Regions from separate parts of the Homo sapiens genome. Here region 2 is linked to region 1. Evidence: fine-mapped QTL for protein levels in blood plasma. Region 1 holds a variant in brackets. A gene starts in the other region. All regions are shown on their forward strands. Region 1 has its middle 13 kb from the start of ZNF367. Region 2 holds the start of EGF (epidermal growth factor).

Evidence for each region. A credible set is the group of variants that fine-mapping cannot tell apart. PIP is the chance, under the fine-mapping model, that this variant and not a neighbour inherited with it causes the effect. Protein levels are from antibody-based Olink assays in UK Biobank. Linkage for the fine-mapping came from a reference panel and not from the study's own genotypes, which makes the PIPs less certain.
Region 2: it holds the start of EGF, and the variant in region 1 is the best candidate, but not a certain one, in a credible set for the plasma level of the EGF protein (UK Biobank, PIP 0.90).

The regions. Positions count from the first base shown.
Region 1 is chr9:96,428,744-96,433,151 of GRCh38, forward strand. No RefSeq gene overlaps it. Among named protein-coding and RNA genes, the nearest start is that of ZNF367, 13 kb to the left of the region's middle. The variant A/C (reference allele first, on the strand shown) is at 1,894.
Region 2 is chr4:109,910,111-109,914,499 of GRCh38, forward strand. EGF (epidermal growth factor) reads left to right here and starts at 2,773. Exons shown (of 24, transcript NM_001963.6): 1 at 2,773-3,352. The coding sequence starts at 3,226.

The DNA.
Region 1 (4,408 bases):
TATATATGTATATATATGTATATATGTATATATGTATATATGTACATATGTATATATGTATATATGTACATATGTATATGTGTATATATGTATATATATGTATATGTGTATATATGTATATGTATGTATATTGTGTATATATGTGTATATATGTATATATATGTATATATATGTATATATGTATATATATGCATATACGTATATATGTATATATGTATATATGTATATATATGTATATATGTATATATATGTATATATGTATATATACGTATATATGTATATATGTATATATACGTATATATGTATATATGTATATATACGTATATATGTATATATGTATATATGTGTATATACGTATATATGTATATGTATGTATATGTGTGTATATATGTGTATATATGTATATATGTATATATGTGTATATATGTATATATGTATATATGTATGTGTGTGTATATATGTATATATGTATATGTATGTATATGTGTGTATATATGTATATGTATGTATATATGTGTATATATGTATGTATATATGTATATATGTATGTATATATGTATATATGTGTATATATATACACACACACACACACATATATATATATATATATTTTTTTTTTTTTGAGACGGAGTCATGCTCTGTCGCCCAAGCCGGAGTGCAGTGGAGCGATCTCGGCTCACTGCAACCTCCACCTCCTGGGTTCAAGCGATTCTCCTGCCTCAGCCTCCCAGGTAGCTGAGACTACAGGCATGTGCCACCACGCCCAGCTAATTTTTTTGTATTTTTAGTAGAGATGGGGTTTCACCATGTTGGCCAGGCTGGTCTCGAACTCCTGACCTCAGGCGATCCACCTGCCTTGGCCTCCCAAAGTGCTGGGATTACAGGCGTGAGCCACCGCACCCAGCCGACACAAACATTTTTGATGAAAATTTCAGCTGGGGAATGAGCAAAATCGGTATCAAGGAATAACAAAATCTTACAGTCCTCATTCAGTTTAGTTTCTTTGCAGTGAGCACATGCCACTAGTACAAAATGTTTGTGAAAACAATTAGAAAAGCTGTCCCTGATGATCCCTGCCTTTTTGTTAGCAGAACAATGGACTGGTAAAAAATTCACTCCTTGAAAACAGCAAGCTTTTTCACCTGCCTGTCACAGTAAGTTTACATTTATGTGTGCCTGCTGCATGAGCACATTGCAACATAGTTATTCTGTCCTTGGCATCCCTAATTCCTGTAGGGGCTGTCTCACCAGCTGTAGTCAATGTATTTCTGGGGTAATAACAGCAAAACAATAATGTTTCATCAGCATTATAGACTTGTTCTGCTGTCAGATTTTCATCAGCAATGACCTTGGCACACTAGTTAATTTCTCTGCTGCTTCATGATCACCACGAATCTTTAAAAAAATTTAATGCTGTGTCTTCTCTTAAATCTGCACCTAGCCTGCTGAATATTCACAGTTCCCTTCAATATTCAGTTCATCGTGATAGATCTTTGCTTGTCTCATGATAAGCAGGCCATTAAGTGGCATATGCTCACTGCAATGCTAATGGATGCACTCTTTCAATACATGATCAAGATCTTCATTTTCAGCTTTGCAGTGTTTTTCTATTTTTCATTAACTTCTATCCATCACTTTTAGCACAGAAGTTCAACAGTTTATCCATCTGTTTCTTCAGGTCACATATGGTGGTCATTCCAACACCATACTGTTCTGTAAGGCATTTCACACTTCCACCGCCATCCAATTTTTCCAACAGCATGACTTTCTGTGCTATAGATAAACATAAGTGCTTCTTTTTTTTCTTATCACTGTTACCCATAGGGGTATCTTTTTGGCATTTCCAACAATATCTTTAAACACAGAGCAGAGAATAAGCAAAAAAAAAAAAAA[A/C]CACAGTGAGTAATGCACATAGGTCTTGGCCCTATATGGGGCATTGTGGGGAACCTGCCATTGGTGCATCCAGCTGCATATGTACAATTTTATTACCCTTTACAGGCACGCTTGTTGGGGGGTAATCTGGGCATGCACAGAAAAGATATACCACAGCTGAAAGGGGCCGGGAGGGTCTTTTTTTCTGTTGGGGATGCTGAATAAACCATGTTGTGCAACTGCATTTTGACTGCAACCTATCACATGAGGTCAGGTGTGGAATGTTCCATTTCTGGCATCATGTGAGCACTCGAAAAGTTTCAGATTTTGGAGCATTTTCAAGTTTGGATTTTCAGGTTAGGGATGCTCAACCTGTAATTGATTTCTGTCATCTAATCATAGTAGTTAACACCTCCAATACAATGTTGAAAAGTAGTGGATAGTGAACATCCTTGCCTTATTTCCAATGCTAGAATTCCCTATAGTGTATCCCCATTAAATAAGAAACTAATTTTAGGAATAACATTCAATTATGTTAAGAACGTATTTTTTAATTCCTATCTTCCTGAGTGCTTTATGACGAATGTATGTGGATTTTTTTCCAAAGGCTTTCTCTGCTTTTAAGGAGGTAATAATATTATCTTTTTTCTTTTTTCGAGACGGAGTCTCGCTCTGTCGCCCAGGCTGGAGTGCAGTGGCTCAATCTCGGCTCACTGCCAGCTCTGCCTCCCGGGTTCATGCCATTCTCCTGCCTCAGCCTCCCGAGTAGCTGGGACTACAGGCGCCCACCACCAGGCCTGGCTAATTTTTTGTATTTTTAGTAGAGACGGGGTTTCACCGTGTTAGCAGGATGGTCTTGATCGTGATCCGCCTGTCTTGGCCTCCAAAAGTGCTGGGATTACAGTCGTGAGGCACCGCGCCCGACTGTTTTTTTTTTTGTTTTTTTTTTTTTTTTTTTTTTTTGAGAGGAGTCTTGCTCTGTCTCCCAGGCTGGACTGCAGTGGTGCAATCTCGGCTTACTGCAAGCTCCGCCTCCCGGGTTCACGCCATTCTCCCGCCTCAGCCTCCCGGGTAGCTGGGACTACAGGCGCCCACCACCACACCTGGCTAAATTTTTGTATTTTTAGTAGAAACGGGGTTTTAGTAGTTTTAGTAGAGACAGGGTTTCACCGTATTAGCCAGGATGGTCTCGATCTCCTGACCTCGTGATCTGCCCGCCTCAGCCTCCCAAAGTGCTGGGATTACAGGTGTGAGCCACCATGCCCGGCCAGCCAGGCTGGTCTTGAACTCCTGACCTCAGGTGATCCGCCTGCCTCAGCCTCCCAAAGTTCTAGGATTACAGGCTTGAGCCACAGTGCCTGGCCTATATAATTTTTAAAAAGCAATATGGACAAAAGAATAAGACCCAGAGGGGATACACACACATACACACACAAAAGGGTAGTCTCTAATTGGTAGGTGTCTAGTACATAGGGTCTATGGTTCAATCTGTCCCTTTTGGTATAAATTAGCATGCCAAGATACAGTTTGAGTCAGCCAATCCTCAAGAATTACATTTTTATCTGAGGTACATTTTAGAATCTAATGTAGTGTCATTAGACACATGTGCAAATTTTTTTTTTTTTGAGATGGAGTCTTGCTCTGTCACCCAAGCTGAAGTGCAAGGCATGAGCTCGGCTCACTGCAACCTTTGCCTCTTGGATTCAAGCCATTCTCCTGCCTCAGCCTCCTGAGTAGCTGGGATTACAGGTGTGCGCCACCACGTCCAGATAATATTTTGTATTTTTAGTAGAGACTTCTACTAAAGGCTTCACCATGTTAGCCAGGCTGGTCTTGAACTCCTGACCTCAAGAGATCTGTCTACCTTGGCCTCCAAAAGTGCTGGGATTACAGGCATGAGCCACTGTGCCGGGCCAAGATGTGCACGTATTTTGTGTGCATACTGTTCACCATCCCCCGCAACTACATGGAAAGCTTGTCTGGGAGTTTAGATAAAGATGGCTCCAGAGCTCTTGCCGAATTCCCTGGCTATATCAGGTGCTCAAAAGTTGATGACTTACTATTATTTTGATATAATCATAACCCTTCATGATGCTTTGCAGGTGTTCAAAGCTCTTCTATGTATTTTCTTATTCGACCCTCACAACATCTCTTATTGGGCTGACTTAGCAGAGTATCTGCGTTTTATAGCTAAAGAGAAAAATATCAAAGAGATTAAGTGGCTTTGCTAAGGCCATATGGCTCACATGGGGTAGGGCTAGGACTGGCACAAATCCACTCTTCTTTGCTTTATGCCGTAGTGCTCATCAGAGCCTGAATTTCTTTTAAGATATGTTTTAATAATATGTCCCATCACAGTGTTTGATAAATGATAACATCAATAGCAGAGATATCATGTAGGCAAAAACAATTTAGGAATTGCATTTTTAAGTGCTCACTCAGCCTTAAGAGGGTAATTATATAATGAATTTAGAAAACCCAACCACTTTTAAAGACTTACTGTAATGGCAGAAATGATATTGGATGCTAAGCAAAA
Region 2 (4,389 bases), not on the chromosome of region 1:
AATGAGGAAATTTCATCGGAAAAGTTAGAATTTTATGACAAGCACACATAAACATATGTCCCAATAGTCCCTTCCAGCTATTGCTGTCCACTCACACTTATAACCATTCAGAGCTATCTCCTTGCTATTAATGTCTAACTTTCTTACTGACCTACCAGCAGGGTTTCCCCCACCCAGCTGTGTCCCTTCAGGATCTAAGGAACTATTAAATAAGAAAAAAAATTTTTGTCCATTCCTGTTCCACATCCTGTCAGCATGACCCTTCTCCTTCTCTATGTCCTTCTGAGGCATCCTAATTACTCCACAGAGCTTCACACTGCATGCTGTAGTCCAAAGTACATTGCAGCTCCCCTCCTTCTTTCCTGACACCCAGTTTGTGACCAGTCATGTACTTGGTGGCTGGTCATTCATTAGCTCATACTCATACTCTCTGTTGTTGCTGTTAATCAACCTCAGCAAGCTCTTGATGTTAAGGACTACGACTTCTGTTTCTTGTACTCCAGGCAGTGCTCTATCATATATAGCTGTTTAATTAACGAATGAATTAGTTAACTTTAACTCAATTCCAGAAATTAAATCATATTTGGCAGCTCAAACCTATAAGTTATAGTGCATTTCTTATCAATTTTAAAATAAAGAGTTTATTTCAACCTTTCTTGAGTGCAAGAAAGGTTCAGTTTTATCCAGAAGTAGGAACATAAACTTATTATTTATTTATTTATTTATTTTTTTGAGATAGAGTCTTGCTCTGTCACCCAGGCTGGAGTGCAGTGGCGTGTTATCGGCTCACTGCAACCTCCGCCTCCTGGGTTCAAGCAATTCTCCTGCCTCAGCCTCATGAGTAGCTGGGACTATAGGCATGTGCCACCACGCCTGGCTAACTTTTTGTATTTTTAGTAGAGATGGGGTTTCACCGTGTTAGCCAGGATGGTCTAGATCTCCTGAAGTGTGATCTGCCCACCTTGGCCTCCCAAAGTGCTGGGATTACAGGCATGAGCCACCACGCCCGGCTGGAATATAAACTTATTAAATATCTCTGTAAATCCTTCCCAGTTGGGTAGCTCTGTCCTATGATTTTGCTATCTGGGCAACTGTAGATGATGAATTAGCTGCGATTGATTTTCATCATCAGTCATCAGCCATAGCATCTGCTATACCTCTGTTGACTCCGTCATCTCCTAGGGAGCTTGTACTCAACATTAATGACAACATTAGCCCAGGTGACATGTAATTAAGAAAGCAAACCTTTTTCCAACCAAAAATAATATGAGAGATTCCAAATCCAAACAGAACAGAGCTGTGGATCATTTCATGTTTGTCTTCATATCATTCTCTCCACTCCACTCCACTGACACAGCGTGATGCTTGATTGTCCTCTAAGCCCCTTCCATTGCTGTCATCTGGGATGCTGGCAATGTATTGTGCTGAAAGGGAAGCTTATTAATAAAGTTAGTAACTCGAAGAGTCAGTGCAGGTTATTTGTAGGATGCTCATTATGAGTCTTGAGTCTGACTCAGTCCAGAAAGCAATGGAATATTCCGCATAACCACCTAAAGGACTTCTCTTTCCCCCTTCCCCAGGGTCTGTTTCTCCTGTAAGGGTTCAGAGCTGCCTGGCAGAGGCTGGCTGAAATAGGAGAAATCCTGACTTAAGCTGTTTCAGGAAAGTGATCCAGTCTTTGGAGAATAATCAGGACATAATTAAGTATGAGTAAAAGGCTTAGAGTTAGTCTGTTCTCCTCTGTAATGGGGTGTTCACTAGTGTGACAGTTGTTTTTGTGACTATTGCTTTTACGTACATTTTTGACCAGCACTTGGAACACTACCTCAGGGTAACTTAAATGAAAGTCCATTTTCCAGGATGGAGTAAACTGACAGAAATTTCCATCGTGCATCAAATCTGCTATAAGTTGTTTGCCTTCTGGGTATTTTTGGGCCCTAGTTGTACTCCTGAAGAAATAACCACTGTTGCTCCAAGTAGAAAGTGGTTGAGGAGACAGCTAACAGATACGTCCAGTTCTTATTTTCTATCACAGAGATGTGAAAAAAAAAAAGCCTAAATTATCTTAGAAGGAAAAGCATTCCTCTGTGCTGGATTTCCAGTGCTTCCCAGCTTTGCACTGTTAGCTTATTTTTTCCAATGTCCCTATAATAACAATCCACTCCTTTCTCTGCACTCCTGGCCCCTCGTGATGTTTTATCATGCTCATGCTGAAAGAAAAGGTGTCTGTCCATACTGTATCTCTTCATTTGGCCTCAGGGATTTCCCTTTGATTTGGAAAGAATAATCTTTCAAATTCCGCTATAAACTATACAGGAGAAAGAGAAAAATAAGATAAAGCTCCTGGAATGTGCACTGGTATTGACATTTCGTTCAAATAATGGGCTGAAGGTGAACTATCTTTACTATTGCTCATGTGAATGATCAATTATTATCAATCCAAACTATCAACAGTGCTGCTTATTATTGATTTATACTGCATGGTTTAATTTTGTCTCCATCCTTCCAGACATTAAAACATAGCCAATATTTAGCAGTTCCCGCCATTCACCATGAGCACCTCCACAGCCCCCAACTCCTCTCTCCCAGTTCTGCCCAGGATATTTATGGTGAGTAGCGAGTTATCTCCTCTTTGGCAGTCATCCCTGCTTTCCTGTGTGGAGGAATTGCCCACATTCGCATTTGCAAACAGAGGCTCACTCAAGTGTCACTAAAGGAAAGGAGGTGGAGCCTGAAGAGCTTTAAAAAGCAAAGCTGAGTCATTCCACTTTTCAAAAAGAGAAACTGTTGGGAGAGGAATCGTATCTCCATATTTCTTCTTTCAGCCCCAATCCAAGGGTTGTAGCTGGAACTTTCCATCAGTTCTTCCTTTCTTTTTCCTCTCTAAGCCTTTGCCTTGCTCTGTCACAGTGAAGTCAGCCAGAGCAGGGCTGTTAAACTCTGTGAAATTTGTCATAAGGGTGTCAGGTATTTCTTACTGGCTTCCAAAGAAACATAGATAAAGAAATCTTTCCTGTGGCTTCCCTTGGCAGGCTGCATTCAGAAGGTCTCTCAGTTGAAGAAAGAGCTTGGAGGACAACAGCACAACAGGAGAGTAAAAGATGCCCCAGGGCTGAGGCCTCCGCTCAGGCAGCCGCATCTGGGGTCAATCATACTCACCTTGCCCGGGCCATGCTCCAGCAAAATCAAGCTGTTTTCTTTTGAAAGTTCAAACTCATCAAGATTATGCTGCTCACTCTTATCATTCTGTTGCCAGTAGTTTCAAAATTTAGTTTTGTTAGTCTCTCAGCACCGCAGCACTGGAGCTGTCCTGAAGGTACTCTCGCAGGAAATGGGAATTCTACTTGTGTGGGTAAGTACTCCAATGAAAAGGTGCTCCAGGTCTCCGGGAAACTGCCCCCACATCCCTGTTGGTTCAATCTGGTATACTTGGGCATTTAACAAAGTTTGTCTTTGGGTATGTATAGTTGCTTAATTTTTGTTTTCTGATGCATGTTTATTTTCTTACTGGCCATTAGAGCTAATCTGCTACCAACTATAAAACTTCATAACTCTCAAACTGTACTTCTGTGTATAAGTGAATGAATATGCCTCATTTTAAACTAGCAGAACATTTCATGGAAGCTTCAGCTTTTACTCTGACAAGAGGAGTAATTAACACCTGGCTAATTGCTTGGAAATTAGGGAAACAGATGGTTGATTTTTTGTTTGTCTGTTTGAAACTCTTAAGCCACAAAGAAAAAAATCCTTCCTTCTGATAACTTGTAAGAATTCAGAAGTTCTAAAAATTAGTGAAAAATGGAAAGGGAACTGTGAACAAAGGTAGTTGTGAAAATTAACCTAAATTTCAATTTCAACCTCCTTCACTTTCTCCCCACTCTTACTGTTTCTGAGGCTCTGACACAACTCCGGAGTTTTAGTAACAGGTGCATTGCAACTTTAAGAACTGCCAAATATGATAATGGGTAAATAAGCCACACTGTCCTCTCATATTAAATGAATTTTTTGCCAAGGGGAAATGGGAGCTTGACTGAATGCGAATTACAATCCTGCCAAAGGATATTGCCTGAAAAACATTCTCTCTCTAACTGTTAATTCATTTATTTAATCCTTGGGTGAGCCTCCAACCTGCTGCTTAGACACGGCAGCCGCCTTTGTTGATGAGAGGTTATAGCTGCCCCGACATTCCATTTTTATCAGCTTGCCCTTTTGAGATGGCGTCTGGCTTTTAAAAAGAGGTAGATTGAGGGGGAAAACACAGTACAGTTTCCAGAAGAGACACCTATGGAAGACAGTACACAATAGGCAATAGTTTGAATAAAGAGAGCAGAATGGAGCCAAACTGCCAAAGCTAGGCTGCTGTCCTGGCTCTCCCATTAAGGAAGTTCC